Regions from separate parts of the Homo sapiens genome. Here region 2 is linked to region 1. The links come from fine-mapping of genetic effects on gene expression. Tissue or cell type: nasal epithelium. Region 1 holds a variant in brackets; the other region holds the start of a gene. All regions are shown on one strand. Distances are between the middles of the regions.

What was found. PIP is the estimated chance that this variant, and not a neighbour inherited with it, causes the effect.
Region 2: it holds the start of PRMT8, and the variant in region 1 is fine-mapped to the expression of PRMT8 in nasal epithelium (TOPMed, PIP 0.99).

Annotation. Positions count from the first base shown.
Region 1 is chr12:3,571,245-3,573,927 of GRCh38, forward strand. All of the region lies in intron 6 of PRMT8 (protein arginine methyltransferase 8), which reads left to right. Among named protein-coding and RNA genes, the nearest start is that of THCAT155, 80 kb to the left of the region's middle. The variant C/G (reference allele first, on the strand shown) is at 1,414.
Region 2 is chr12:3,489,954-3,492,636 of GRCh38, forward strand. PRMT8 (protein arginine methyltransferase 8) reads left to right here and starts at 1,250. Exons shown (of 10, transcript NM_019854.5): 1 at 1,250-1,747. The coding sequence starts at 1,673. All of the region lies in intron 1 of THCAT155 (thyroid cancer-associated transcript 155), which reads right to left.

The DNA.
Region 1 (2,683 bases):
AAGATTGCAGACACAACTCCACAGTGAGTGTTGATCAAATGCATGTATAAATAGGACATATTTTGCCCTGGAGCTGCATTTTGGAGTTCTTGCTGTGCAATTGTACTGAATAGTGTTTTGAGGAGGAAAGCTTCTAGGTACATTCTTCATTGTCAAGTTCACTTAGATATTTATTGAGCTCCAACCCGAGGCACACCTCTTTAAGAAACTTTCTCATGGTTTCCACAACAAAGATACCTGTGTCAGGAGCCTTTGCAGGTATGCACATTGCAATGAGCCAGCCTGGGGCAGGGAGGGGCTCCTAAGGCACTGGCCCCAGACTGGAGATCATGTGATTTCTTTGATTCTCATTGCAGTGTTCATACCTTTTGGAAAAGGAAAAAAAAAAATCTGAAAGTTAGCACCATGTTATCTTGTGCTTGTTCTAGAGTCTCTGAAAAATACCCCAACCTCCTCCCCACCCCAAAAGAACACCAAGAAACAGACACTTAAAATGTATTTAAAATACATTTTCTATTTACATTTTTGAAAATAATCTATTTTTTTGTAAAGGAAGCAAACCCACTTAGAAATTCATTTCAAATAAATGGAGACTTTGGTTACTATGAGTTCTAAATCAGAAGTAAAGCACAAAGGTTGCTGGTTGCTAAGGCAACAATTGTAAGCAATTTTCTATTGGCTCAAGAACCAGCTAAGAAGGAAAAATTTTGAAATGAGGCAGGAGAGTGAGACATGTTCAGCCCCTTTCAGAAAGTAAGTTGTTAGAGGGAGAGCTTTCTTTCCTTTCCTCTCCTTTCCTTTTCTTTTATTTCCTTCCCTCTCCTTCCCTTCCCTCCCCTCCTTTCTTCTTCTTTCTCAACCACACACAGCAACATGGGAGTGCAAGAATGAGGTCAGTGCAGAACCTGCCCTCCATTTGCTCACCAATGAATAGAGACCACATAGAGACAGAGATAAATATCTGGCATATACTAGGCTCACAATACATAATTTTAACGAAGGAAGGAAGGAAGGAAGGAAAGTGAACCAGCAGAGGGATGTGCAAGGTGTAGTATTTAACTCTTAGAGAGGAGCAATCATTTTACACACATTTTCTACTATAAAGGAAATACACAGAATTTCAAAAATGGAAGGAAACTCGGTGGATGTTCTATTCAATTTCATGCACAACCCATGAATTGTACCCAGTGCATGAATCTACACCCTGCTGAGAATGAGAGAGATGGGCACCAGTTTCTTGGCTGATGAGAAGACTGAAAGAAAGACCTCATGCAGAGGTGGCAGTGCTTATAGCTTGATGGTTGAAGGGCGGCCCTCTTGGATGGCTCAGCTGCTGTCTGTGGGCTTCACTTCCACTCATGACATCCAGAGTTTCCTCTGGTTCCAGCCCATTTTATGCAAGGATTCCACTTT[C/G]TTCATGAGAGCCTAAAATGTGTCAATCTAGTGTAAACACTTTCCCTTCTGCACAGAGGAGAATCTGTAAGTAGCATCTGGTGGCACTTGTTCTATTTTTCTCTGACCTCATTCTGAGGCAGTCCCATTAGCCTCATCAGAGAAACTCAGATGGTTGGGGCTGGGGTGGTGAGGGAGGATGTAGCTACAGCTCTCTGCAATCAGAAATCACATTTCTCCCCTGGTACTTAATTTTCTTTCCTCAGACTGTTTTTGAGATTTCTGTCTTTATTGATTTTCTGCAGTTTGATTCTGATGTGTCTAGGTGTGTTTTTCTTTTTATTTATCCTGCTTGGGGTTACATGGAATTCTTGGAACTGTGGATGGATTGTTTCGTTAGTTTAGAAAAATTTCAGCCAGTATCTCTACAAATATTTTTTTCTGCCTGATTATCTTTCTCCCCTTCTTCAGGAACTCCCATTATATGAAATAATGTTTGATATTGTCCTATGGAGCTTGGATCCTCTATTTTTTTCACCCCTTTTTTCTCTTTGTGTTTAAGTTTGGATCATTTTTATTGCCCCGTTTTCAACTTTATTGGTTATTCCCTGATATATTCATTCTGTTAATAAGTTCATTTTAAAAAGTCTTCTTTCCTTATATTGTTATTTCGATTTCTAACATTTCCACTGGCTTTTTTAAAAAGTTTCCATCTCGCTAATGAAATTCTCCATTCATTGATGCACACTGTCCACCTTTTCCACTAGCTTCTTTAACATACTTAGTATAGATACTTTAAAGTCTTGTTGGATAATTCTAACATCTGAGCATCTCTAAATTTGGTTCTATGACTTTTTTCTTATGATGATAAGTCATATTTTTCCCTTTCTCATGTGTCTTATAATTTTTCATTAATGCTGGGCATTGTGAGTAAAAGGACCAGTAGAGACAGGTGAATCACACCTATGTCCAGAAAAGAGCATTGCCTCTGCCAGGCTATTAGAATGAGGGTGTGTGTGAGTCAATCTAGTCTGTATTAATAGTAGATTTGGGCTTTGTTGTTGCTTTAATTACATACATTATGCCATAGTATAGTCCTTTTTAGGAGTCTGTTTTCATCCATTAACAAAAGCTTCACAGGCCTCTCTGATATTATTTTTTAATTTCTAGATAATCATGATATTTCTTGATGACCAATGGCTCTTACCCCACATACACTTATTTGGCATACAGCATACAAATAATTATTGCAACAAATAATTAATGTGATTTATTTGTATCCTACTCCATC
Region 2 (2,683 bases), 81 kb before region 1:
CTTTGCCCGAGGACCAGATGATGGAGGCATGTTTCCTACTGAGAATGATTCTAGACCTTTTCTTCAATGGACTCTGGGGTTAGTTGAGGACAGTCAGGCTCACACTTCCCAGTTATCGAAGGTGATGATAAAAAGCAAATAGGGCATTTGGGAGGGACCTCCCCAAACAAGTACAGAGATGAAGTGAAGACAGCCGGGTGCTCAGGGAGCATCTTATAGGTCTCAGTCCTTGACTCGTAGGTTGAAAGCTTAAAAGTACAGCTGTTTTAAGGAGTCAGCCTGAGTGTCCTGTTGCAAAGGGAGAGGCAGAATGGGGTCCCCCGCTTTTGTTCTATCTCCCACTGCCCGACAGATGGCCAGTAAAACAGAGAAAAAGAAGCTCTCAAAGTGAAGACAGGAATGCATTGTATAAAAATTCACACCCCCTGCTGCCGCCCAAACTCCCTTAAAAAAGGATCAAGAGAATCCTGACGGGTACGTGACATCCTCCCTCTCTCCCATAAAAGGGACTTCAAAATCTGGCGATGGTGGGGGAAGGGTGAGGAGGGAGAAGAGAAATGCGTGGGCAGGGGGCTGCCAGGGAAGACTGGAGTGGGGGGGGGGGCACTGCAGTCTCGCATTTGACTTTCTCCCACCCTCTTTCCCAAGCCACTCTGGCCGCCACCTTTGCCCCTCCCTCTCAGCCTGAAAGGGGCTTGGAGTCCCAAGGGCTTTGGGTACAAAGAGAGAGAGAGAGAGAGAGAGAGAGAGAGAGAGAGAGAGAGAGAAAAGGATAAAGAATGACACCACACTTACCCCTAGAGTTGAAGGAGTTAAGGACCCTCCCCCATCCAGACACCCACCCCTTCGTTCCCCAAATCGTAATTCGCCGAGGAAGGATCCAGGAACTGGCAGAGGAGCGGGAGAGCTGGGGTGGGCCGGGGTGGGGAGGGTGCGAGTTAACTGTGGCCCGGTCTCGCCCGGACCTCGCCCTAGGTGGGAGCACGCGCACCGGGTCTGAGAACCTGCAAGAGCCTCGCCCGGCGCCGGCTTTCTCTGGGCCCCCCGCGCGGGCCTGGCCTCCACGTAAGTTGTGTGCAGCGCCAGGGAGTGGAGGCGGCCGAGACCCTCGGAGACTAGGGGAGGGGGCGGGCCCGGGGGCGCTGGGGGCCCTCGGTCTGCGCCCAGCCGCCGCCGGCTCCAGCGAACCTCCTACCCCGCCCCCACTCACCCGGCTCAGCCCCTAGGAGAGACGCGCAGGAAGCGTGTTGCTTCGCCCAGCGGATCGGCAGAAGTTGAGAGGAGTTGGCGGCTGCCTCCGGCCGGCCGGACTTTGCGAGCAGCCTGGAGAGGATCCGCGACCGCCGCCGCCGCCGCCGCGGAGGCTTCGGGGCTGCTTCCCTCGAGCTTAGCCCGCAGCGCGGGTGGAGAGGGGCGGGGAGGGGGTCGGGGGCACGAGAAGAACTTGAAACCGTGTGAAGGAATCCGGAGCAGATGAGAAGGGAGGAAAATAAAAGAAAGTGGAGACTGCAGAACAGACTCCGCTGTGGCTGACTGTGCCGGCCGACGCTCCAGCTGAGGGGCTGGGTTGGATTTTTTTTTTTCTCCCATCCTCTCGCTCTCTCTTTTAAAGCGACACCAGCTCTCTCTCCTCCTCTACTATCTCGGTATCACCAAACCCTTGCCGGCTCTTATGGGCATGAAACACTCCTCCCGCTGCCTGCTCCTGAGGAGGAAAATGGCGGAGAACGCGGCCGAGAGCACCGAGGTAAGGAGGCGAGCGAGCAGGGGCTCTCGGAGACCCCGCCGCCCACCCGGACCACCGCGCCGCCGCCGCCGCTCAGCGCCGAGTGCCAAACTTTCCCCAGTTTCATCCCGCTCGCTTCTGCCGGCCTCCTCCTGTGTGTGTGTGTGTGTGTGTGTGTGTGTGTGTGTGTGTGTGTGTGTGTGTGTGTGTTGGTGGGGGGTGGGGGGGAAGTTCATGTCTCAGGTCCCCTCCCTCTTGAAAATGCAAAACAGTCACTCTCACCCCATCACCCTCTCCTGCCACCCGCTGCTCCCTTCTCCCGCCCCCAAGTCCCAAACCCCGGGCAGCCGCGCTCCCCTGCCCTCTCCTCTGGGCTCCGTGAGGGCTCCCGGGTCCCGGCTTTGTGCAGAGCTGGGGTGGGTAATCCTGGGGCCAGGTCTGCCCCCTGCAGTGCCTTGACCGTCTCCTGCCGCTGCCTCAGCTTTACCCTTCAAGCTCGAGTCGGTTCCCGAGCTCTCCGTCCCCGCAGCCGCGCGGAGAGCCCCCGGCCGCGGGGGCCGAGCCGGCAGGAGGACTCGGGCACCTCCTACAGACCCTCCGGCCCAGATCTGGGCCAGAGAGAAGTCTGCAATCCTCAGATATCAGAGCCGCCTCTGGGTAGCTAAACCCGGCAGGGCACACGGGCCGCGGCCACCTTCAGCACCAGGGACAGCGTCCGCCCCTGCAGCAGCCGAGCCTGCGCGGACTGTGGGGGCTGCGCGCCGCCGGCTGCAGTGAGAAATGGGTCTGCAGCCACCCGTCCCGCAAGGGCTTTTGAGGAGGTCGCTCTAGCTCCGCAAATTGTGTTCTCGGCCCCCGCCTTCGGCAGCCTTTTTCTCTACTCTCCAGCTGGCCCTGAGCCGCAGAGAGCCCTGCTGGGCTTTGCGTCCCGAGACTCGAGGCTGTGATCCCTCGCCT